Linked DNA regions of Homo sapiens: regions 2, 3 and 4 are each linked to region 1. The links come from fine-mapping of genetic effects on plasma protein levels. Region 1 holds a variant in brackets. A gene starts in each other region. All regions are shown on their forward strands. Region 1 overlaps LILRB5 (leukocyte immunoglobulin like receptor B5). Region 2 holds the start of F12 (coagulation factor XII). Region 3 holds the start of CHAD (chondroadherin). Region 4 holds the start of EGFLAM (EGF like, fibronectin type III and laminin G domains).

What was found. PIP is the posterior inclusion probability: the model's chance that the variant is causal. The UK Biobank Pharma Proteomics Project read protein levels with antibody pairs (Olink). The fine-mapping took linkage between variants from a reference panel, not from the people measured, so its PIPs are less certain.
Region 2: F12 starts here. The variant in region 1 is fine-mapped to the plasma level of the F12 protein (UK Biobank, PIP above 0.99).
Region 3: it holds the start of CHAD, and the variant in region 1 is fine-mapped to the plasma level of the CHAD protein (UK Biobank, PIP above 0.99).
Region 4: EGFLAM starts here. The variant in region 1 is fine-mapped to the plasma level of the EGFLAM protein (UK Biobank, PIP above 0.99).

What each region holds. Positions count from the first base shown.
Region 1 is chr19:54,249,019-54,256,973 of GRCh38, forward strand. LILRB5 (leukocyte immunoglobulin like receptor B5) reads right to left here. Exons shown (of 13, transcript NM_001081442.3): 2 at 7,943-7,955; 3 at 7,471-7,755; 4 at 7,025-7,324; 5 at 6,268-6,564; 6 at 5,717-6,019; 7 at 5,347-5,397; 8 at 5,000-5,050; 9 at 3,853-3,969; 10 at 3,468-3,531; 11 at 3,348-3,385; 12 at 3,036-3,088; 13 at 403-1,914. The coding sequence ends at 1,768. Among named protein-coding and RNA genes, the nearest start is that of LILRB5, 4.3 kb to the right of the region's middle. RefSeq lists an enhancer at 2,476-3,093. The variant C/T (reference allele first, on the strand shown) is at 6,690.
Region 2 is chr5:177,407,750-177,415,466 of GRCh38, forward strand. It overlaps F12 (coagulation factor XII), which reads right to left and starts at 1,815. Exons shown (of 14, transcript NM_000505.4): 1 at 1,722-1,815; 2 at 1,297-1,354. The coding sequence starts at 1,778.
Region 3 is chr17:50,468,446-50,470,499 of GRCh38, forward strand. CHAD (chondroadherin) reads right to left here and starts at 435. Exons shown (of 4, transcript NM_001267.3): 1 at 1-435. The coding sequence starts at 368. All of the region lies in intron 10 of ACSF2 (acyl-CoA synthetase family member 2), which reads left to right. RefSeq lists enhancers at 1-350, 351-1,308.
Region 4 is chr5:38,254,610-38,262,599 of GRCh38, forward strand. It overlaps EGFLAM (EGF like, fibronectin type III and laminin G domains), which reads left to right and starts at 3,950. Exons shown (of 22, transcript NM_152403.4): 1 at 3,950-4,242. The coding sequence starts at 4,146. LOC124900966 (a long non-coding RNA gene) reads right to left here and starts at 4,057. Exons shown (of 2, transcript XR_007058739.1): 1 at 3,985-4,057; 2 at 2,488-3,022. RefSeq lists an enhancer at 2,580-3,081.

The DNA of each region.
Region 1 (7,955 bases):
AAAAAAGATTAGCTGGTTGTGGTGGCGGGCACCTGTAGTCCCAGCTACTCGGGAGGCTAAGGTAGGAGAGTTGCTTGAACTCAGGAGACAGAGGTTGCAGTGAGCTGAGATCACGCCACTGCACTCTAGCCTGGGTGACAGAGTGAGACTCCGTCTCAAAAAATAAATAAATAAATAAATAAAAACAAAAAACAAACCAAAAAATCAAACACAAAGTGCTATGGTTGACAATCCACACTCACTAATGAGGATTATCATGGTCAAAAGGAGTACTAGGAATGTGTGAGACCCATCTTAGGTTAAACATGTTTAAATATTTGAGAAATACAGAGGACATTGAATTTCTGAGGCAGGATTATATGATTTTTTTTTCTACAGCAGAATGAATATTATATAAAATAATTAGAAGACATAGAAAAATCAGATTTAATGAACACAATCAAAATACTCATTCCTTCGAGGACAAGACACAGTGAAGCACCAATTATGAAATTAGAAAACAAAACAGAATTTTTTTTAGAGTGTAGCATAGAAACTTTATAAATTGCAATTTAAAGTACTTGGGAGAATAGAATGAGGAGGGGGAATGTCCTATCTATTGTAGGCGTCAGAAAGAAGGAAGAGAAAACGATGTCTAGCAATAGCCCAAGAGGTGAGTAGCTGAACATTTTATAGAGATGAGGAGAGACTAACTAAGGACTAGGGCGCATCCCTTTAAAATTGAAATGTATGGGCTGGACGTGGTGGCTCACGCCTGTAAGCCCAGCACTTTGGGAGGCTGAGGCGGGCGGATCACCTGAGGTCGGGAGTTTGAGACCAGCCTGACCAACATGGAGAAACCCTGTCTCTACTAAAAATACAAAAATTAGCCGGGCGTGGTGGCAGGTGCCTGTAGTCCCAGTTACTCGGGAGACTGAGGCAGGAGAATCGCTTGAACCCGGGAGGCAGAGGTTGCAGTGAGCCGAGATCACTCCACTGTACTCCAGCCTGGTGATAGAGCGAGACTCCGTCTCAAAAAACAAAACAAAACAAAACAAAAACCCTCACACAAAAACCAAGACAAATCCCCTTGACACAAGTTTATCTGTCTAACAAACCTGCACATGTATCCCTGAACTTAAAAGTGAAAAAAATAAAGGCAATATGTGTCAGATTTGTGGTGGTGTCTGCTGTTTCACCCCCATATGGAAATGTGTGCCTGAACCCCGCTTTTTTCCTTGCTTATTGTGGCTAGGATTTGTGAATGTAATTCACATTCTCAAGAATGAGCTTTTTTGGCTTCATCGAGTTTTCACGTAGCCCTCATTAGTAACTCCTCTTGTTATTTTTGTCCCCTTCCTCACACCTTCATTTGGAATAATTTGTTGTTCTTTTTCTAAATTCTTTCTGTCATTGCCAAGGTCATTAATTACGTAGGTTTTATTCTTTTCTAATTCATTCGCTCATTTGTAGTTTTCCGATTTCATCATTTAATGTGTAATATTTACATTATCATTCCAAATTTATACCATGCTCTAATTTCTGTTTCAGTTTTCTCAGCTCATTGATTTATTGAGAAGTCTGTGGCTTCATTTCAAAAATGCAAGGATATTAGTCATCTTTGACTGCAGAATCTAGTGAGTCCCAGAGTTCCCAGGATGTCCTGGTGGTCTTTGTTAGGGGTCCAGGCTGGCTGGGGTTCATTGGTGTCCACTGGGGGCAGCTCCTGTGCCTTCTGGAGTCTCTGAGTCTCCTTCTGTTGAGTATGAGATCTGGGTCCCCCGTGGGCTAGTGGATGGCCAGGGGGGCGTAGATGCTGGGTTCAGCTGGAGGTTCCCTTTCCTGGGATGGAGGAGGCTCAGTTGCCTCCCGTCTGAGGGTCAAGCTGTGCAGCTGGGCGTAGGTCACATCCTGGGGGGCTTCAGATGCAGCAGCCTGCAGCGGGGGAGAGTGAGAGGGAAGGAACGTGGTGGGGGTGGGGGAGGCCTGGGGGCCTGGAGAGGAAAGGACTCTCTCAGTGTCCATCTGTCTGTCCTCTTCTGCCTGTCTGTCCTTTGTGTCCAGGAATTCCCCAGACAGTGGGGAAGGAGGAGAGGCCATTTCTCTCCTAGGTCTGGAGTGTTTCACCGGGGCATACGTCACTGCCTGGGGGTCTTCATCGTGTGGGCTCTGCTGGAGAGAGACAGTGGTGGGGGGTGTCCTTGAGTCCCCCTGACCTCCTGGAGTCAATTTTCCTCACTGTTCCCGGGGTGATCCGATTACATCCCTTTCCTGATGGAATCTCAGGGACGCCCTAAGGCCGTGGAGGGTCTGGCCGCTCCCTCCCTGTGGTTCTGGCCTCTGCTCCTCACTCTGACCTTGCCCATTTGGCTGCAGCCTCACGGGCCTTCCCGCAAGAGCTCGCTGCTGCCTCGGGGCCTTTGCACGGCTGTTTCCTCTGCCTGCAGGGGCTCGTCCATCAGAGGATCGTGTGCCCCACTCTGTCCAGGCTTCTCAGATGACAGCTGAGCAGACAGCCCTCCCCTTCCATTCAGACTGGCCCCACTGCCCCACACTCTCTGCCCTTTCCCTGGTTTATGTTCCTTACAGCACGTTGCACTCCTGGACACGATGCATTTATTTGCATTTTGTCTCCCACCATGAGGTGAGCTCAGGAGGCGGGGGCGGCTTTGCTCCCTGCTGTGTCTGCAGCTCCCATGGGGAGCCCCATCCACAGTGAGCTCCCTGGGAACACTCGCTGGTTGAATGAATGAAGGGGAGCCTGGGGGACCGGGTCGGTTCATTTATTCCTCATCCTCCTGAGGCCTGGGGAGAGCTCTAACAACCAGACGGCCAAACAGAGGATGAGGAGCAGGAAGGGGACCCGGGAGGAGGCCCACGAGGTCCCAGGACAGCAGAAGAGAGTGAGGTCGCAGCAGGCGGGAGGCAGCGTGCTGGACAAGGAGGGGTCCACCGTGACGATGCTGAGAGCCGGGGGAAGGAGGACAGAGAAGTCCTGCTGGATTAGATCTGGCACCAGGAGGCCTTTGGTGCCCGGGACAGGGGCGGGGCCTCACCGGAGCATCCATCTCCACCCCGTCCTTGGGCTGTGTGTCCTTCACGGCAGCATCTGCTGGGCCAGAGCAAGGGGTTCATCTCCTGGGAAGGTTCTCTGAGACTTCTCCGTCCTGCCAGCCCTTGCCCTGTTCCCACTAGGGTGGCTGAGATCCAGGGAGGGACTGTGATGTCCCTGAGGTCCCACAGTGTGGGTTCAGACCGCCTCCCCCTTGGCCCCAGACCCCCCCCAGCCTGTGCTCCTGCCCCCATTGCTACAGAAACTTTGGTGCTCCCTTGCCCACCCCAGGTGCCCTCCGCTTCTAGTCACTCACTGAGAATTTCCTCCTGGATGTCAGCAACTGGGCTGGCCCTGGGGGAGGACACGGGAGTGTGAGGGGCAGTGAGGGGGCTGTGCGGGTGGATGGGAGTCTTGGGTCTTCATGCAGAATTACCTCTTCTGCAGGCCCTGGTCCTTGGGCTCTGGCCCCGCAGCCCCTGCAGGACGGTAGAAATGGGCTGGACAGAGATGGACAGAGGGTCAGGCCTGGGAGAATTCGAACCAGCTGCCCTGCACACACAACTCGAGCGGAAAGAAGGAAACCTGGAGGCCCACTGGCACTGAGGCTTTAAATACGTCGTAAGTTTAAAGTAAAATCAGAAGAATCAAGCACTTCCACACATGCTCACATTTATTCTCTTCTTTCTCGATCGATTTTTCACCTGGGAATTTCTGGAGCAGTTTTTCTAAGCTGACTTTCCTTTGTGTTTGGTTTCCCTCTGGCTGGTGCCCCGAGCCCACCCTCGGTCGGCCCACGGGTTCCCCCATTCCCTACTCACCCGATGTCCTGTGTTTGCTCTGATGCCGATGTCGGAGGAGGAGGAAGAGGAGGAGGAACAGCAGCAGGACGAAGGCCACTGAGACCCCAGTCACAACCCCCAGGTGCCTTCCCAGACCTTGAGCGTGATGACGTTGGGAATGGGGATGACGTCATTGATGTGAGCACCTTCTGTGTGCAGGCGCGAGCTAGGTCTTTCCTTCATGAGCTCCAACCCTCACAGCAGTTGTGCAACATGGGATTGCCAACCCCCCAATTCACAGAGGAGCAAACTGAGGCTCAGAGAGGGGAATCGCCTGCCCCAGGCTCCTCAGCCTGGAAGAAGCAGGTCTGGGAAGGGAACCAGGGACTTTGTGTTTTCCCCAGCTGTCCTCCTGCTGCCCCACCAGGTGCACACCTGTTTCCTATTTGACAGGAGGGGCCTGTCCTAGTGTCTCCATCTGGGGCTGGTGTCCTTCTTAGGATCCTCCCTTCCCCAGCACAGCAGGGCCTGGGAGAGGGAGTGGGTTGTGCAGGACGGACCCTGCATTGCTCTCACTCCCAGCTCAGCCAGGTCCGTTTCCCACTCTGCCAAGTTCCCATACTCCCATGCAGAACCTGTCTGGATAGGGGCTCTGTGTGTATCTGGGAAGGGCTGAGGGTAGCAGGAGGACGGTGCCCCTGCCGAGCTGTGTACAGGGCCAGGTCCCATGATTTTGCTTACGCCTCGCAGCAGTTCTGTGAGCTGGATGGGACTGAGCCAGTTTACAGCTGCTGAAACTGAGTCAGAGTAGAAAGTTGACCTGCCTGGGCCCACGGTGGGATGCGGCAGAGCTGGGAAGTGAACCCAGGAGTCTGACCCGCAGCCCTTGTTCTCTGCACCTGAGCGGAGCCCCGGAGCTGCAGGGAAAGAGCCTGAATGCCCCAAACCACGGCCCTGCTCCCCTCCCCTGCCCCAGGTCACCGTCACTGCTGCCGGTGGGACAGGACAGTCCCCTGAAGAATCCCATCAATGCAGGCCTCTCTCCTTTACACTTGGAGAAACTGAGGCCCAGGCAGGGGAAGGGCTTGTGCACTTCACCATCTCCAGAGGAGCCTGAACCTACGACAGAACCCACCCCTGCCTCCCCTGGTCTCCGCCCACCTCCCACTCAGAGCCCCTCACTCACCACTCTGGGGATCCAACCCCGTGGGGGTGAGGGGCTGGTCCTCAGGGCCTGCTGGGTCAGGACGGGGAGGTGAGGGCTGGGGCTGCCCTGCTCCCCACATCAGCCCGGCTGCTCCTCCCCCAGGCTGGGCCCCAACACCCAACATCTCTCTCTGCCTCGACGCCCGCCCCCTCACCGGCCCAGCCTCAGAGCCCCGGGGAGCCTGTGGCCCCTCCTCTGGCTCTGCCCAGCTCCCTGGAGGGAAGCTCCCGCTTGAGTCTTTGAGGGGAATAGGATCCTCGGGGAGACTCAGGGCTGCCTGGGGGGAGACCACGCTCCCTCCGAGCCCAGAGGCCTCAGTGACTCACCAGGTGTGGGGGTGGAGCCTGTAGGTGAGAGGCTGGGATCCCCAGAGGGTCCTGGGAATAAGCACAGAAAGGGAGCGAGGCGCTTTGGTGCTGAGTGAGGAAACCCGTCCCTCCACCTGCCCGTGGCTTCTCTGGAAACTTTCTTCTGCTCACCTTTCACCATTTGCATCCCAGGAGATGGGGCCAAGTGTGGGCATGCCTGGGGAGCCCCCGTTGTCCTCCTCCCCTCTGAGGGGTGAGTCTCCCTCTGGCTGAGCCCCCCTCAAACCCTCCCCCCCGCACCGCGACTCCATCCCAGCCCAGAGCTCTCCTGGGGGCAGGGCCTGAGCTGAGCCTTTGAGCTTGGACAGGACAGGGTCAGGGCCCTCACCTGAGACCACGAGCTCCTGGGGGTAACTAGGGCTGGACAGCAGGTAGGGGTAGGACCTGATTGCGCTGTAGCATCGGTAGGTTCCACCCTGGGCTGAGGTCACAGGACTCATGGAGAATTCAGCCTGGTGTCTATAAGACTGGTACTTTGACTTTAGACACAGCGGGGGATGGGCTGCCCCCTCCTTGGTCAAAAAGAAAGTGTCTATCTGATGCCATGACTGACACAGCAGGGTCACGTTCTCTCCTGAGGCCACCTTGGGGCCCGGCTGCACCGAGAGGGCGGGTATGTCAGGGATCAGTCCTGGAGAGAAGAAGGATGGGTGAGGGGCTGCCCCACCTTGCTCTGAGCTGAGACCTCCCCAGGCCTCTCTAGGAGCCTCTGTCTCTGTTTTCTCTGAGTCTTCCCCTCCCCACCCATCCCCTGTCTCTGTCTGTCTCTCCCTCCCTTGGGACCACCCCCCCGCCTCATCCCGGCCATCACTAATTGGATTCCCCCGGCAGGACCTGTGCAGAGCCTGGGTCCCTGACTGAACCCGCTGGGCTCCTCACCTGCGATCAGGATGTCCAGGGGGTCGCTGGGGGCCGACCACCTAGGGGAGAGGTTGTGTGCACCGTAGCATCTGTACTGGCCCCCGTGGGAGCGGCTCACAGGGCCCAGGGTGAAGTTGGCCTGGGAGAGCCCAGCCTGGGGCTGCTGGCCAGAGCCCTGGACGAGGTCATGTTCCCCCTCCTTGTACAGAACGAATATGTCATAGCCGACATCAGAGCGACACTGCAGGGTCAGGCTGCCTCCGCGGGCCACGACAGAGCCCTGCGGGATCAGGAGGGAGGGCTTCCTAGACACGCCTGGAGGGAAAGAGGAATTGGGACTTGGAAGGCTGGTTCCTCCCCCGCCCCTTCCTTCTCCCGTCCTGGCGTCCTGGCCCTGCAGGTCTCACTGTCTCTCACGCTCTGTGTCTCGGATCCCGGGG[C/T]CTCCTTCTCACCTGGGTCTGTCTTGGAGTAGTTCCAGACCGATAGTGTCTCTCTGACTCCTGGCCACTGTCTGTCTGGTCTGTCCTCTCCTCATTGAGGGACAGGAAATTGCAGCAAATACACCCATTGCCTTCCTGAGTCGACCCCTTCCAGGTGAGGGTGACTCAGGCTCCTGTTTCCCCATCTGAGCCTCCCCGTGGGGTCTTCCTCACGCCTTCAGCCCATCCATCAACACATCCTTCTGGGGTCCTTGCCATGATCAGTCATCAACCAAACTCCCAACAACCTATCTGGTTCCCCAAAATTATATAAAGAAGTGTGGTGGCTTTTTCACCTGGGACCAGAATCTCCAGGAGGTCACTGGGGTTCGACCACACCTGAGGGTTTTTCCTGTAATAGTAATAGCATCTGAACCTCCACCTGCAGCTGGGGGTCACGGGACCCACAGGGAACAGGGCCTGGGATGGCCCTTTGGGGAGCTTCTGTGAGTACAGGGTCCTGGGGAGCTTCTGTTCTTCCTCAACAAGAACAAACGTGAGAAGTCCGTCCAGTGTATCACACTGGAGGGTCACATTTCCTCCTGAGGCCACCACAGGACTCGGCAGGGCTAAAAGAGTGGGTTCTGCATAGAATCCTAGCAGAGAAGGAGGCACGTCTTAAGTGGGGCTCCGACCTCCCACATCATCCCCAGGGCTGGGCTGTGAGAGGTAGACGTCCCTAAGAGCCGACCCTCTTCCTGAGGGCAGAGCCTGGGGCTGGGACCCCTGAGTGTCCTCTCACCTGTCGCCACCAGCTCCAGGGGGTCACTGGGCTCTGACCAGCCTGCAGGGGTCTCATAGTAGCAGCGGTATCGCCCTGCACTGTCATACACCGTGGATGGAATGTGGAACTTGGCCTTGGCTCCAGGCTCCAGTGGGTTCTGTCTCTTCCGGGCCCATGGGAGTCCCTCCTTATCCAGACGGTACTCCTCAGTCTCCAGGGGCCCCTGACACCAGAGGGTCACGGGCTTCCCCCGAGCTATCACAGAGGCTGGCTCAGCCCAGAGGGTGGGTTTGGGGAGGGTGCCTAGAATGGAATCAGAGGCTGGATCCCAAGACATCCCCATCCCTCAGATTCCAGCTCTCAGCCCCAGGACCCTCCAGACGTCCCCATCAGTCAGCCCAGAACAGCTATCTCCACCCCCAGCTGCCCGGGGTTGGGCCCTTGTCCCCAGTGAGAAGAAGGGACCTGGGACAGCTGGGGACAGACTCACCTGCCTGCACGCA
Region 2 (7,717 bases), not on the chromosome of region 1:
ACTCTAGCCTAGGGGACAGAGCGAGACTCCATCTCAAAAAAAAAAAAAGATGCAGATGGGATGGACGGACAGAGAGGAGGGGGACCTTAGGCAGGGGATTAGGCAAGGATAGGGCACCAAGTTTGGGTAAGGCAAGAGAGAGGAGAAACTTTTGGGTGTGGGGTGAAGAGAGGAGGCTGAGGGAGTCCAGGGTTGGAATGTGCTGGGCCTCAACGCCATGCTTAGAGACTCAACCCCACCAAGTCAGGCCCACCAGGGTAAGGTCCATCTGGTTCACAGGCCCTGCTATGTGCCACACTCTAGGTAAATTTTTTTTTTTTTTTTGAGACGGAGTCTTGCTGTGTTGCCCAAGCTGGAGTGCAATGGTGTGATCTTCGTTCACTGCAACCTTCACCTCCCAGGTTCAAGCAATTCTTCTGCCTCAGCCTCCCGAGTAGCTGGGACTACTGGCGCATGCCACCATGCCTGGCTAATTTTTGTACTTTTAGTAGAGACAGCATTTCACCATGTTGGCCAGGCTGGTCTCGAACTCCTGACCTCATGATCCACCGACCTTGGCCTCCCAAAGTGCTGGGATTACAGGCATGAGCCACCATGCCTGGCATGTAGGTAATTTAGTGTCTGGAAGAATGAAAGCAATGGGGAGCTATGGCAGAGCTTGAGGAAGGGGGAAATGGCAGGTACCCTTCATCTAAAAGGTAGTTTCATAATAAAAGCTAATATTTGTAAAGCATTTCCATGCACCAGGTGATGGGCTGAATACCTCACATGGGTTTCCCTTCTCAACAACCCTAAGAGGTTTACTGTTATCAACCTGGTTTCACAGAAGGGGAAATTGAAGCTTGGAGAACTCAAATCCCTCGCCCAGAGTCACCCAGCTCATAAGTGATAAAGCTGGGCTTCAGAGGCATTCAGATGCCAGAGACAAGCTCTTGATCCTTCCTTGCCCATTGAAGGCCCTGGCCTCTGTGTGGCATGAATGATGCCCATGAGACGTACTGGGGAAAGGAAAAGAAGGGGAGAAGCTGGGGAAACTGAGGAAGGCTGGCAGGAGCCCAGGTGTGATGGCGCCAGCAGCACATATCTCAAGCACCTGCTCCGAGCCAGGCTCGTGGGCACTTAGACACAGCCCATACCCTGCCCTCAAGGATCACACAGCTCACGATCACTCTAGTGCCCATGGGCATAAGACCTAGCACCAGGTAGGCACTAGACTAGACTGCCCTGAGACTGCACACACTGCACCATACACATCCCCACCCAAGGGTTCCCGGGAGGAGGAGCCAGGCCACTTACCGACTGTGTGCTCTTCAGCTTTGTACTTATGCTCCTTGGGGGCTTCCCAAGGTGGAATCTACAAGGGAGAGAAGAAGGCAGGGAACTGACTATAAGTCATAGCCTGCCACCGATCTGTTGCTAGTCTGCAGCTTCCTCTCACAGCCCAGAAATGCAGAGATTTCTTCCCAAGACCCAAACCCTTTCTACCTCCCCCCGTTGTCTTCTTAAGGCCCATCTCCCCCAGAAATGCAGGCTGTGCCCTTGTATCCACCCAGTCTGGTTGTCTGTCTCCTCTGCCTGGGCCTTCCGGGCTGGCCTCACCTTTCCACATAGGCCTCCTAGTCACCTGGACCCACAGGTCATGAGCAGAGGCCATGGCTCATGGCTGTGATAGCGACCCCCCAGAACAATCCTGGGACAATCCTGGTTCCCACAGCACTCACCGAAAGTGTTGACTCCAAGCTCACCAGCAGGAACCCCAGGAGCAGCAGAGCCCTCATGGCATCCGTCCGTTGGTCCAGCTGCCTATCCAGGAGTCCAGATCAATAGGACTGGCCAAAGGTCTTGGAAATAGAGATTGGTCAAGCTGCCCTCCTGAGCCTGGTGGGGCACAGGCTGTTTGTGGAAAGCCAAGTGGAGCAACTTCCTTGGTCACCCCTTGAGGGCCGGAAAGTTGGGAGTTTGTGGGTGGGGGTGAAATGAAGAGCTGGGCTCCTCCTCTCTTTTCTAGATAGTGGGACTGGAAGCAGAAGAAGGGACATTCTTATGCTCTGGGTCCTGTGGAGATCAGGAGGTTAAGGAGATCAAAGATCATGGGGATCTTGGAGTCCACTGTGAAGTGTGTTCATTTTCTATTGTCATGTAACAAACTACCATAAACTCAGCATCTTACAACAATACCCACTTTTAATTTTCTTTTTTTTTTTTTTTTTTTTGAGACGGAGTCTCGCTCTGTCGCCCAGGCTGGAGTGCAGTGGCGCAATCTCCGCTCACTGCAAGCTCCGCCTCCCGGGTTCACGCCATTCTCCTGCCTCAGCCTCCCGAGTAGCTGGGACTACAGGAGCCCACCACCACGCCCAGCTAATTTTTTGTCTTTTTAGTAGAGACGGGGTTTCACCATGTTAGCCAGGATGGTCTCGATCTCCTGACCTCGTGATCCACCCGCCTCGGCCTCCCAAAGTGCTGGGATTACAGGCCTGAGCCACTGCACCGGGCCATGTGTCGCCTTTTAAGAACTCACCTGACTAGGTCAGGCCCACCAAAGCCATTCTCCTTTTTTTTTTTTTTTTTGAGACAGAGTCTGGCTCTGTCACCCAGGCTGGAGTGCAGTGGCACGATCTTGGCTCACTGCAAGCTACGCCTCCCGGGTTCACGCCATTCTCCTGCCTCAGCCTCCTGGGTAGCTGGGAATACAGGCACCCGCCACCACGCCCAGCTAATTTTTTGTATTTTTAGTAGAGATGGGGTTTCACTGTGTTAGCCAGGATGGTCTCGATCTCCTGACCTCGTGATCTGCCCGCCTTGGCCTCCCAAAGTGCTGGGATTACAGGTATGAGCCACCATGCCTGGCCCTGCCATTCTCCTTATTTTAAGGTCAAACAATTTGGGACTTAAATTACATGTGCAAAATTCTTTCACAGAAGCATCTACATTCATGTTTGACAGAATAACTGGGAGGTGTGCAAACACCAGGGGTAGAGATCTTGGGGCCATCTTAGCATTCTACCAACCACAGGAAGTGAGGCAAGAAAGCAAATGATTTAATGAGAAAAGTGCTAAACCAAGGGGCACTAAGATGTGCAGCTGGAACATGAGAAGAAGACGGGGTGCACATGTGCTGCCCAGCATCTGTCCTGGTTCGGTAATGACACTTTGATTTTTCCTTTAGCAACGACTCCTCTCTTACTTCTTCCATGGGCTCTAGTGCTGCCAACTCTACCCTCAGAGCTAGGGCTAGAGATGTGGCCTAGGTCTGGTCAATCAGAGCATGACATCTCTAATCCACAGTGATTGGTTCAGAGATAAGCATATACACAATTTAGGCCAATTAAAGTGCTAGCTTGGGACTTTTGCCAGAACTTTTGGGAAAGCAAAAAAGTTGCACTGGGGTTACTAAGCACAGAGCATGTGGGTCTGAACACATTGATGATCACCTTTGTCACTCTCTAGGGAGGGCCTGTTTGAGAATGAAGCCTACACATAGGAAAAGCAAAGCAAACAGGGCAGGAAGGATGGAAAGATGCTGTGGTAGACAGCCTCAAAGACAGCCCCCATTGATCCTCACCACCTAGGATTCATGCCCTTGTATGGTGTCTTCCCACATTGAGTTAGGGCTGTTCTGTGTGTCCATCAGAATATGACAGAAGTGGCTGGGTGTGGTGGCTCACACCTGTAATCCCAGCACTTTGGGATGCCAAGGCAGGCAGATCACTCTAGGTCAGGAGTTCAAGACCGGCCTGGCCAACGTGTTGGCCAAACCCCATCTCTATGAAAAATACAAAAATTAGCCGGGCGTAGTGGCGTGTGCCTGTAATCCCAGCTACCCGTGAGGCTGAGGCAGGAGAATCGCTTGAACCCAGGAAGTGGAGGTTGTAGTGAGCAGAGATTGTGCCATTGCACTCCAGCCTGGGCGACAGGGACTGTCTCAAAAAAAAAAAAAATATGGCAGAAGTGAGGGTGTTGGACTTCCAAGCCCAGGTCATAAAAGACATTGCAGTTTCTGCCTCGGTCTCTTAGGTTGCTCACTCTGGAGGAAGCCAGCCACTGTGTTGTGAGGACACACATGCAGCCCTGCAGAGAAGCCCATGTAGGGAGAAAGGAAAGCACCCTGCTGACAGCCAGTGCCAATTGGACAGCCACATGAATAAGCTGCCTTGGAAGTGGATACTGCAGCCCTCGCTGACATTTGGCTTGCAATCTTATGAAAGACCTCAAGGCAAAACTGACCATCAGAAACTGTGATAAATCATCATTAAATGTTGTTGCTTTAAGCCACAAGTTAGGGTGATTTGTTACACGACATTTGAGAACTAGTACTGATGGATTGATTTCTCATGACTTTGAGAGCCTACATCCTAAAACTAGAAGTATCCTTAAGACTTGGTCAGTTATGGCTAGGCACAGTGGCTCACGCCTGTAATCCCAACACTCTGGGAGGCTGGGGATCACTTGAGGATCACTTGAGCCCAGGAGTTCCAGACTGATGTAGGCAACATAGTGAGATCCCATCTCTCCAAAAAAATTTAACATTAGCCAGGCATGGTGGCGCGTGCCTGTAGTTCCGGCTACTTGTGAGTCTGAGGCAGGAGGATTGCTTGAGCCCAGAGGTCCAAAATGCTGTGAGCCGTGATTGTGCCACTGCACTCCAGTCTGGGAAGCAGACTGAGACTGTATCTCCAAAAAAAAAAAAAAATAGACTTCTCAGTTATATGAGCCAATAAAACCAATTTGAGTGGACTTCTGTCACTTTCAGTTATACAAAGTCCTAAGTTATACAAAGTAATTTATGGGAAATGAAGACTGAGTGTAGCAATTTATTAATTCTGCTGGAAGAGAGGCAGGCTGTGGAAGACTTCTTGGAACAGAAACACAGAAAGAGGAGGGCAGGAGAGGAGGGGCACCTTTCCAACCACTGGTTTCAAAGGTAACTGGTTTCAAAGTCATTGACGTGACAGCTGTTAACTCCATGATGAAAGTGAAACTATTAGATATATTGACGAGTCATTAAAGCGAAACTACCTTTGTCACCTTTTTTGTTGTTTCAAAGAGACTCGGTCTTATTAAGTTGCCCAGGCTAGCCTGGAACTTCTGGGCGCAAGTGATCCTCTCGCTTCATCCTCCTGAATAGCTGGGATTACAGGTTCATGCCATCATGCCTGGCTCTGTCAGTTCTTGATTGCTCCTGAGTATAGACCCTGGCCCTAAGGCCACTCCCACATTGGCTCCTTCCTCTTGGGGAGAAGGCAGCTGTTCCTCTACATGGAAGGGGCCTTTTGAACAGGTCTTCGCCACAAGTAGGGGTTTGCAGGCAGAGTGAGTAATACAACTGCACAGAAGCCTGAATGCAGCGTGTCAAATGGGGAATGTGGTGAGCATAAGGTGCCTTGTAGGGAGTGTGAGATGAGGTGTCAGGTGGACATTAATGGTCATTTGGATGTTCAACATCCATCTCCCTTCCTCTTCCTCTCCCAGTTTCATTTTGTGATCACCCCTCCCCAGCTGTGGTGGTGAAAGGGTACTTTATTATTATTTTTATTTAGTTATTTATTTGAGATGGAGTCTCGCGCTGTCGCCCAAACTGGACTGCCATGGTGCGATCTCGGCTCACTACAACCTCCACCTCCCAGGTTCAAGTGATTCTCCTGCCTCAGCCTCCCAAGTAGCTGCCATTACAGGCCCACGCCACCATGCCCGGCTAATTTTTTGTCTCCTTAGTAGAGACCAGGGCTTCACCATGTTGGCCAGGTTGGTCTCGAACTCCTGACCTCATGATCTGCCCACCTCGGCCTCCCGAAGTGCTGGAATTACAGGCGTGAGCCACCACACCCGGCTGAAAGGGTACTTTCTAGAGACCATCTCCACTATGGAAGCCTAATGGACCAGACCAACCTCTCCCTACCATAGTATAGCCAGAGGGACCTAAACTCAGCCAATAGTGTTTTCTCCCAGGGCTCTGAATCCTGATCAAGCCACACAAGGATGGCAGGAAAAGCTGGAGGTCTGGCATTGCACCACCTGTGCCCTGACCAAATCATCCCGGCTACATGGCATTAAGTCAGGATGCCTTCCAAAAACCAAGCATATGCAGTAGGGCAATTCGAATTCATCATCCCATGTCACCAGATGTCTGGAGCAGCAGGACTCCAGGAACAGTGCTTTCAGTGGTTCAACAATGTCATCAAGAACCCAAGTTCTTTCTTTTTTTGTTTGTCTTCTGTGTGCAGACCTTCAGGCTGCCTGCCCTCATGGTCACAAGATGGCTGTCACAGCTCCAGGAATCACACTTCAACTCAATTATGTTCAAGCAAAGAAGAGGCACCTTCCCTTCCACTAGCTCCTTCTTAGGAATGAGGAACCCTCCCTCAAATCTCAAGCAGACCTCTCCTCATGCTTTCTTAGCTAGAACAGGCTCACATGACATCCCTAAGCCATGTTTGGCAAGGAAAAGGGGATCCCCATCACTGGCCTAAACCTATTAACCCTGGATCTGGGTCAGAGGCATGTGAGGTAAAGTGGCCACTGGAACAGAACTGGGACTCTGCAAACAGGGAAGAGCGGTGGCATGGATATTAGGTGGACAACTTCCGTGTCTGCTCAAGGGAAATCACTGTACTTCCTGCTTCCTAGTCTTCCAGTGGCTCTTAATTCCTGCACATTTCCAAGCCTATTCCTTCGAGCTGATGCCGTGAACTCCCGAAGACCTTCTCACAAAGTAAATTCCCTTTTGTTGAAGCAGCTAGAGTCATTTTCTGTTGCTTGCAACCAAGAGCTCTCTCTTCCTCATGCTCCCAGCCTACTTAGCCACCTAGTTCTGTTCATTCCACTATTTAAATATTTTTCTTTTTTTTCTTTTTTGAGGCAGGGTGTCAGTCTGTTGCTCAGGCTAGAGTGCAGTGACGTGATCATGGCTCACTGCAGCCTTAGCATCCCAGGCTCTAAGCAATCCTCCCACCTCAGCCTCCTAAGTAGCTGGGATACAGACGTGCAGCACCACACCCAGCTAATTTTTTAATTTTTTGTAGAGGTGAGGTGTCACTGTGTTCCCCAGGTTGGTCTCAAACTCCTGGGCTCAAGCTATCTCCTCAACCTCAGCTTCCCAAAGTGCTGAGATTACAGGTATGAGCCACCGCACCAGGCTACATAAATATTTCTCAAATCTCTCCATCTCTCTCAATTTCTACTGCCCCTTCTTTGACTTCCAGAAAATTCAAGGTAGCTACAGCTGTGAAACATAATTTGAGAGCCTGTGATGGATGTCTATCATTTCCTGTTTACCATTCATTCTCCCTGCTTCTAGAAATGGCCCTCATTGTTTCTTTGGGGAATCGCTCCTCCCCACCCTGCGTCAATATACATAAAATAAAGCCTACCCTATCCCTTGGCTGAGGGTGGAGTGGGCATTTGATCTAGACCTGGCCAATCGGAACACCACCTCTGTCTTCAGCGATTGGTTCAAATGAACACCTGAATTAGGTGGGCGTGGTGGTGCACGCCTGTGGTCCCAGCTACCTAGGAGGCTGAGGTGGGATGATGGCTTGAGCCTAGAAGGCAGAGGTTGCAGTGAGCCAAGATCGCACCACTGCACTCTAGCCTGGACGACAGAGCCAGACTCTATCTCAAAAGAAAAAAAAAAAGAACACCTAACCCACATCGAACCAGTGAGAGGCAGCCCCAGGATTTTTGCTGGAATTATAAAGCTAGAGGCCTTCTCTTTCCATGG
Region 3 (2,054 bases), not on the chromosome of region 1:
GTCAGGTCGTCGAAGGCACCTGCGCGCAGCACGCGGATGTCGTTATGGGACAGGTACAAGTAGATAAGTTGCTTGAGGCCGCGGAAGGCACCGGCGGCCACCTCGCGGATCTGGCAGTGCTGCAGGTGCAATGACACGAGGTTCGGCATGGCCCGGAACGAATTGGCAGCCAGCACCGGGAAGTTGTTGCGCTGTAGGTTGAGCAGCTTGGTCTTCTCTGACACCTTGGGGATCTTCTGCAGCCCCACCTTGTCGCAGATGACGTGCTGCAGGTCGCTGTGGCAGTGGCAGTTCTGGGGGCAGGCGGCCAGCGCCGGCAGCAGACCAGCCAGGAGGCCGAGGCTGAGCAAGAGCATTGGGCGGACCATGGCTGGGACGCCTGGGGCCGGGGCTGGGGGCAGCAGCGGCGGCGGGGCGCGGGCAGCGGCGAGTCCTAGGCGCTCGGGTCTGCCGCCCTCTTTATACGGTGGCCCTGACCGCAGCCGGCAGCCGAGCCAGCTCCTACGTGGAGCATCGAGGCCACTGGGCTTAACTCGCTCGCGCCCAGAGATGCGCCCCCGCCCTCCACGGGGAAGGGGGCGGGGCCGTTCCCCCAGCCGGCTACCGTGCATGAGGGGGTGGGACCGTGGCCCCCGAGCCCCGAGCCCTGAGCCCCGGCTGTAGCCCCCCGCTCTCCTATGGTGCTCCTCTGCCTACCGCCTTTCCCGGGGCTTTTCTGGGAAGGGGGAATAGTTATGTCTGGAGCCCCGAGTTTACATCGGAGAGAGGGAGGCGTTCCCTCAACTTATTTGTTTGCTCAGGTTTGAGCCTCCACGCCGCGCCATCCACACACGCTCGGCCGGGTGCCCTGGATGCGAGGCGGGAGGAAGCGGGGCCGGACAGCTGGATGCGTCTCCCTGCGGTGGGCCAGCTGCCTGCGCTTTAAAGGGGCGCTTGTGCGGCGCCTGCCGAGCGTGAGAGCCGCCCCGGCGTCGGTCTCCCACTTCAGACTCGACGCGCCGAAGCTGGCCCTGGGTAGACCCGAGCTCCTTCCCCACCCTCGGGCGCGCCCCCACCCCTCTCTTCCAACCCCGCTTGCGTTTCTGTCGCCGGCGCCCTCATCCCCTTTTTCCACCGCTGAAGGCTAAGCAGAGAAGTGGGAAGTGGGGGAGAGTGGCCCACAGGAATGGCAAACACACCTGGAAACCACAGGCCACAAGCACAGTCGCACCATCCCCCCTCCTTCATCGCCCCGAAATATCTCCATCCCTCATCCCCAACCCTAGTGGTCAGGACCCGCCCCTGAGGGGTCTCAGGGTGGCGGCTGAGTGGCGCCGAGGTGTACTTGGCAGATGCCACATTCGGGCGGTGGCCCCAGGACTGTGAGGAGGGGTGCGGGAGGGGGTGGGGCAGGTCGAGGGACCAGCCCTGGACGGCTCTGGCTGCCAGACCCTAAGTTCTGTGGGCAGTCCCGCCCCAGCCCGCCAGATTTCTGTGTGCCCACTTGCCAGCCACGATGTCCGGATTCCTGTGGAAAGGGGAGGGTGAGCAGGCAGGGTCACAGCTCTGGCCTCAGGGTGAGCTCCAAGCTGCCTGGCACAGGATATTGTCTGTGATGAGGGGTGGAAGGAGAAACCAGAACCCACATTGAACCAAACCCCAGCCGTGCCAGAGCCAGAGCAGCTGATATGGGGGAAGCTTGGTGCAGGGAGGAGGATGGATGAGATCTGGTATCCGTTGATTAAAGGGGACCTAGGATACGGGGTAACTAGCCTCTCTTCCCTTACCCAGTACCCTCGTGTTGGGGCCTGGTTTCCAGGGCCTGCCCTTTTCCCAAACCTCTCTGCCCCTTGCCTCTAGGATAGGAGGGTCATACTTGGCCTAGACCATTCCTTGATGGTATTTAGGCTTCTCCAAGGCTGGCTTCTGGTTTTTCTGTTGCTCAGGCTTTCCAACCACTGGAAATGGGGGAGGTGGGGTGGGGGTACCACTGGTTTTTAAAATCACTGCTTAGGTTGTTTTTTTATTTTGATGGAAATAAATTCACGGGAAACTCTCCAGAGCTTGGGGGACGC
Region 4 (7,990 bases), not on the chromosome of region 1:
ATTAAAGGTAAATGGGAGGTTAGAATTCTCATCCCTCATCCTTCTTCAAAAATACACACTTCTAGAGAGGAAGCATGAAGAGGGCTTTGTGGGGGTGCTGGTCATATCCTATTCCTTGATCTGGGCAGTAGTTAATAAAGTTATACAAGTGTGCTCACTTTGCTATAATTCATCAATTGGTACACTTACTATTTGATACTTTTGTATGTTGCATCTTGATTAAAATGTAACATATAAATATATGTATATTTATATTTCTAGTTTGATAAGACACTACGTTGGTGAGAGTTCACGGAATTAGTTAGGCACATATACTGCTTATTGGGGAGTAAAATAGTACAACCTCCTTGGGAGGAAATGTAGCCAAATTATCAAAATTGAAAAGGCATTTACTGTTTGACCGAGCATGGTTAGTCTAGAAATGAACCCTACAGTCTACTATAACATGTGCAACTTATTACATATTCAGTGTCATTCATGCCTGCTGTTTATAATAATTGGAAACAACAGAAGAAAGAACAAATAAATTACATATCACATGTAGAATATTATTCAGCAGTTAGTAAGAAGGAGGCAGATCTGTATCTGCTGATTTGGAAGGATCATCAGGTTAAGAAGTACGTAGAAGATGCTCTTGGTTGCGTTAAATATATGTGTATATAATTAGCTTGTCCATTCATAGACCATCTCTAGAAGGATATCCAAGAAACTGGTGATGGTAGAAGGAAGAAAAGGAAACTTATTTTTCACTATACACTCTGCCTGATCTGCATTTCAAATTTTACATGTAGATATAACCAATTTAGAAAAATAAATCAAAAGATGATTCTTGGCTGCTGCCTCTTTGTCACTCTCATTTAGAGTCTTAATAAACATTCTATAATTGATAAGTTTGCCTTTACTTTCTTCTACCAGCCTCCAAATCTATTCCATGCAGCAAAGGTCAGATTCCTCTTCCATGATAATGAGCAAAGTAGGCAGGTCACTCTTCTGCTGGTGACCTTATTAATTGAGTTTAGACCTCCAGTGAATTTGAACAGATTTTTTTTTTTTTAATGAAACATTCAAAGCCTCTTGGCCCCTCTTTAGTTCCCCTCCTCTCAGAAAGCAGGAAGAGAGTGAAAGGCAAGTGTTCTATTTGTCTTTAGTCAGATTTACAAATGCCATAGTTGGTTTTCAAACTGGAAGGAGAGGGAATCTTCCAGTTCCCTTGGAGGATGCGATTTGAACTGCAAAGGAAGGGAATAAGTTTAATGTAACATGTGCTCTAGATTTGAAGCAGATTTTGTGAAATAAGGTCTTATCTCAATGGCCTGATGATCCAGAGTGTTTGCAGGCCCTCAGAGGTAAAAATACAACAGTATAATCTAATGTTGTTTTTCCCCAAGGAAAAAACAAGAGGGGTCTCTGAAGAAACCAAGCCTATTTCCCAAATCGCCTATGGTCATCTGCAAAAAAATGGAAGGGAGGCCCAGGGCCAGGGATGCCGAGGTGGTGTGGGCACATGAGGAGGACATTGGCAAGAAGGCTGCCCAGGCTTGCGAAATTTGCAGTGGACAATTTGCACAGGGTCTGTTAAAAGGCACATGCAGAGTAAAGGTAGCTTAGATTAGATGATGCTGTTTTATCAGCTATTAAAGAGAAAGCAAAACCTGGAATTTACTGATTGTTTCGTCCAGCCCATTCATTTTTACCAAGGCACACTATACGCAGAGCCTAGGATTAAACACCCACATCTCCCGATCCTCTCAGTCCACTGCTGTGTTTACTTTCCACATTGTTCTCTCAAAAGCCTGAAAGCTGGAATCAGACCCCTTGGATTCAAGCGCTGCATGGGAGCTGCATGACCTTGGGCAAGTTTCTTAACCTTCCCATGCTTCAGGTTCCTCACCTGTAAAAGGCGAGAATAGTAATGACAGTATCTTCCTGGTATGGTTGTTATTGGGATTAAAATGCACTTCAAAGAAGGTCTGGTACATAGGAGACCTTAAATAAATGGTAGCCATAATATCAACGATTATTATTACTTCCAGTTTCAGCATCACAGAGAATCATTTTTAAGTAGGAAAGCCTGCATGGGAGGCATCTGCATTGCAACACTCGCTTGGTTCTGGGTGCCACATTAAGTCCGAGATAAGAAATCACTTTCGCATAAAGAAAGGCCTCTAACAACTTCTCAGCTGGCGCTGGAGGAGCTCTCTCACACAGGTGGAGTTCAAAGGGAGGTGGCACGACCCGACACCAATGCTGAAAGCAGACTCCTGCGTGGAGTGGAGGCATGGCCTAGATGACCTTTAAAATGCTAAAAAGTCTATGATTTTGAGACCTTTGAGACTAGCAGCCTTGGGGGCAGTCACTTTGCTTAGCTTAGTGGCCGGCTTTATGGTCACCTTGGACGTGAAGAGCATAGTTCTGTCTGAACTTTGCTCCAGTTCTATGTAAGAGGACAAGCTCTGGTGTCACAGCTAAAACTTCCAAATACTCAAGTTGGAGGGGACTTTGAATTTATTTGTGAACAGACAATTGCACACTTGAAAATGCCAACACATAAGGGAACACACTCAGCTTTGCTAACTAACAAGATTGAGCTCATTACAAACTCTCCAGCCAGGGGATATTTCATTCTTAAAAGAGGAGTAGAAATCCTGTGTGTGTGTGTTTGGGGGGCTGGGGAGGGGAGAAGAATATATCAGTCAACATTGTTTCCTCCCGCGCTCCCAAACATAGGCTAACTGTGAAGAGCCAGGACGCCCACCGAGTCCTGGCAGCGTTGCAAGGTGGGGAGGGGGCGGGCGCGGTCCTGTCGCTAGTGACTGCAGATTTCCTCTGCGGGGCACTTCCTACGGCCTTTGATCTTTCCCCAGGAACTGCCGAGGGCCGCGTTTGCCTCTAAGTTTATTCCCTCTTGGTTTATTTATTGTATCTGCTTTCTCTTCTCGCTGGTTTGGAGGTCAGAACGCCAGTATGCAACGGGACTTGTGTCCCAGGCAGGGTCTCCCCTCTCCAGGCACTACCGCGAAATCTGGCAAAAGGTACATTTTACTGAGTCCTAGGGCAGCAAATTCAGCGGCGGAGAAAGAGTCTTTCTCCATTCAGGAGACAACCCAGGAAGCCCGATCCCGGGATCAGAGGCCAGGACCCCGCCCCGGCCCCCTGCCCCAGGCCCAGCTGGGCGCCGCCCAGGGGCTTTTCTCGGTCCGCCTGGGGGCTCGAGCTCGCGTCCCTCCCTAAGACGCCAGGCTTAACTTGGAGTTTCATCTCCTCCCCAGGAGGGTCTCAAGTTGCCTTCCTCTGCCGGGAAGGGCCCCCACTCCCCCGCTCCAGGCCCTAATCTCCACCCGGCGTCCCAGTCTGAGCGGCCTGGCCTCAGCTCTCCATCTGCGAGCCTTAAATCCCATTTATCTTCTTAGCGCCTCAGACCCGGACGGTCCCGCCTCTCTTCCTCTCACCCCCACCCCACTTGCAAATCACAGACCCCCGTCTACCCCTCGCATCCCCCAAGTGCGCTGGACCAACTACAGCAACCTTTGAGGTGTTAGAAAAAGTCGCCTAGAGGGGCGCGGCAGGAGGAGGGCCCAGGTGGGGTGGAGGGGGGGCGCCCCAAGATTTCAGGGTGAGGACCGCGGAGGGTCCTGGACCCGCAGTCGCCTAACTCCTGCCCTGCGTCTCCAGTGCTTGAAGTCGGTCCCTCCCAGGTCCCCAATCTAGGTCACCAGCGGGGAAGGGCTGCGCTGGGGGTCGCTAGAGAGGGTGAGGGGCGGGCTGTCTGCTTCCGAGGTGGGCGAGGAGTGAAGGTTTCAGGGCCTGTCCCTCTCACTTCCACTCGATTGTAATTTCATCCCCGGGCCGGTCGAGCCTCCCTCCCTCCCGCGGCCAGCCCTTCCCTCCCAGTCGGCCTCCTTCGTCGCCCCCGCCCCCGCGAAAAGCCCTGCAGCTTGCAGCCGGCTTCACTCGCGCACGCCGACCTCCCGGCTGCAGTCCTACCTCTTGGAACTACCCGTGTTTCCGGGCCCAGCCCTCGCAGCCCCCCACCTCCTCGCCCCGGCCCGGGGATCCGTTGGGGCCGCGTCCCCCACGCGCCCCCGGAGACGCCCTTTCCGTGTGCGCCCGGGACTTGGTGAAACTTTGCAGGCGCCGGCTGCGAAATGGATTTAATCCGAGGCGTCTTGCTCCGGCTCCTGCTCCTGGCTTCCAGCCTCGGACCCGGCGCGGTGTCGCTCCGAGCGGCCATCCGAAAACCAGGTAATGCGCTCCTCCGCCCAGAGCCACCACGCCCCGAGCGCCCCTGCTGGGCTCCGGGGCGAGGACACAGAGCGGGCAGCGCACCGCCTCCCTCTCCCCGACCAACGTCTGCTTAACTCGCTTCAGCTCTGCCAGGAGCTGAGAAAAGACGCAAACCTCGCCCTCCCCCGAGCCCGGGCGGCGCTAGGGATATTTATTTATTAAAAGAATGATCAATTTTCCAGACATAGTAGATAGAGGTGGTGGTCCCCGTGTTTGACCGCAGAGAGCTGACAGTTGGGACAGCGATCGTGCTGTCTCAATTACAGAGGATGGCAACCATGCAGAGGAGTCAAACCAGCCCCTCCTGCGTCTCCAAACATTTTACTCAATTCATATTGTCCAGAGCCCAGCCATTTCCTGTTAAGTGTCTGAAGGGTTGCCTGGAGCCCCCTCTGCCCATCTCGGGTCCTGCCCACGCGTTGTGCAGGGATGTGGACTCTGCTCTTAGCATCCTCTTCCACTCTGGGGCCATTTGTTCAGAAGGAAGCACCCAGTGGGTTAATTTTACCGTGTTTTGAACTCCTGTCTTTGCTTTGGCATTTAAACAAAGAAATGTACGTTGTAACCTGTTATAAGGGACTGGGAATTGGGGGAGAACTTGAAACCATAATAACGTGTGTTTCCTCTAGCTGCATATAGGTAAAAAGTCTTCGTTTATTTTGGTCTACTTTGATTTGGCCTATGCTGTGAGATTATTCAAAGTAGAACATTCTGAACAATGAAGTTCTAAACATTGTTTCCCAAATAACGATTTTTATTACTTTTTGCTGGGACCATATTTAGAATTCTGAAAAATCTGTTTTGTCTTAACTTACTTTGTAAGGGAGGTTGTCTTATGGGATTAATTATATCTTATGAACAATGGAAAACAATATTACTTTTATTTGAATGCAGTCTGCAAAACCTCACAGAAAGTGCAGTTTGTCTTCACAAACGTTTCTGTAAGAAAGAGGCAAAGCTAGGAAAATTTATCAGAGGGCAGAGAAAATCGTCTTAGCGGGATCCCATGTGAATGCTTAAATATTTTCGCATTGAAACTCTCTATCTGGAAATATGACTTGTTGCATTTCGGCTCTGGAAGCGTCCTCAGTCTTTGCACTGTGTCTCTTATTACCAGCACTTGTTACCTGCCTTGAAATCTAAGGTCATTATCATAATCTACACCATATTTAAATTATGAGCCACTCCATTTATGAGCTCTTCAATTCATTTTGGAGATAATAGCTTCAGTCCAAGGTAATATCACATTAAATTGTTTCTCTTCCTGCACGCACACATACATATACCTTCAAGGATTTCAGTGAAGGGCTTCTTTCTAACTTTCCTCCTTAAGATAACCACATCACGATCAATTGCATTTTGCAGATTTATTCACATGAAATCATCTATTAATTGTCACAATTTTTAAACAAAGCATAGTTATATCTATAGTTTTAAAGCATGAACAGTGTATGCAATGCTTTTTAAAGGATATATTTTAATCCATTTAAGGGGAATTTTTAAAAAGCATTTTATAAAAACCTGTTGTATAAAACTGCTCATGTGGGTCATCATATTTTCCTTCTTATTTTTTGGAGTTCTTCTCCTAAAAAGATTTTCTACCTGGTTCATTCAGGGTCTCATTCTGATATTCATGCCAGGAATATGCCATGCTGGCCTCTTTGGTTTTATTTGAAGCATAGATAGGGTTTTGATAGTGGAAACACCACCTCTTAAATACTTTGGCATATTAATTACATCAAATTTGAGATAGAAGTGTTTAGACTAGGTTCAACCTAGAAGAGTTTTATTTTTATTACTTTATAATTTTATCCAGACACTAGCTTTCAGGTTGGAAAGCTTCTCAGATTAAAATGACAGCTACTTCATAACTTCAGGGGAAATTTCCCTCCTGGGCTCATTTACATCCCTTGGAAAGACTAGTTTTTGATCCGGAAAATTGGTCCAGATTAAAAAACTGAATGTGCCCTGCTTGGCTCTGATGTGAGCAGCAACTAGCTAATTTATAATCTTCCCCAGACACTAGCAAATCCTGCTAGTATCCATATGGGAGTTTCTTTGTACCTTGTTTCCTCAACAGAAATTGGTACATAGACAGTACTTTGAAGGTATCGTGGCCACGGTGCAGGCATACTGGAGCGGTTCTGTCTTATTTGGATGACCCTCCCTATCTCCTCATACTCCTAAATCTACTTTTGATAAGTATAGCATTGTTGGAGAAGTCTTGGATTCAAAATCAACCTGGAAATTCCCCATCCGCACCTACCTCTGGTGAGAAAAAACTGAGTAGCAGCTTCAAGTCTGAGTCTAGTTTGGGTTCAACACAAGCAACCTTTCTCTTCACCCCAAGATAGCTCATCTTTTGACATTGAACATTAATAAAGAAACCTCTGCATTTGCCAAGACTTACAAGAAATGACAGTTTTCAAATTAAGTGAAATTAAATCATAATAACTAACACTAAGTGCTTGCTACACTGTTCTAAGAACTGGATGCACAGTGATTTATTTAATCAACCCAATAGCCCTGGGAGATGGGGACTATTATTATCACTGTTTTACTGAAGGAGAAATTGTGGCTTAGAGAGGTTAAATATCTCATCCAAGGTCACACAACTAGTAAGCGGTGGAATGGAAATTTAAACTCTGATATTCAGGACCAGAAACTGAGCTCAGAACACTGTGTTTGCAGAGGTGTGTAGCATGTCTTGTAGGGTGTCTTCCTGGAGGCTGAAGAGTGGAGCTCCCGTGGGTCAGATATTGGAGCCTAGGTGGAGGCTGCTGTTTTGTGTGGGGATCCTGCGTTGCTCTTAAACATTTGTAAATGGGATCTGCCCATGCCTGCTAAGACAACAGAGTGCATATGATACTGAAAGAATTTTGGAAGCTACTGTCTACTGGCCTCATTTATAAGAATCACAGGGTGTGGCCTTATGGGGTGATGATGAACCACTTGCTTCTCTTGTTGAACTCCTGGGGATTAAGGCTGGTGAGGGTCAGAGGGCCCACTACAGTACCTGAGGGTAGAAAAAGGGGCCTCTGAAGAATGGGAGGGTTTAGGGCCCTGTCCTTTCCCCAGACCTTCACGGTGTGGACACACCACTCATTGGATAGCCTTCATTCCTTTTCAGACTACAAATTAGAATCATAGGCCTGGAAAGAAGTGAAAAGTCCTCATTTTGCAATGAGGTTGAGGGTGACTCAGTAACTTGCCCCAGTTAACATCAGAAGCTGAACTGGAACTGGCACCTGGACCTCCCACCCTCCTGAGTGGTCTCTAGCCTAGTGCTGGTCCCATCACCTGAGTCTCACCAGAAAGTGCGGGAGGACTGCCGTGCTTCTGTGGTGGGGCAGGAAGAAGGGAGGGGAAATCCAGACAACTGCGGGAACCAGCATGCAACAAGTCACTTAATTCCCGCAGGCATATTGCTAACTCTTGTCCTTATTATCATTTTAAAGTCAGATTTATTGAGGTATAATTTATATGCAATAAATTTCATCAAGTCTACAGTTTGATGAGCCCTAACAAACATACACAGTAATGTAATCACCGCCGGAATAGAAATATATAGAACATTTCCATCATCCTTAAATATTACCTTGTGTCCCTTTGTAGAAAAATGACTCCCTCCCAGCCCCTGGTAATCACTGATCTAACTTCTATCCCTGTAGTTTTGCCTCTTCCAGAATGTCATATTTTGTGTCCA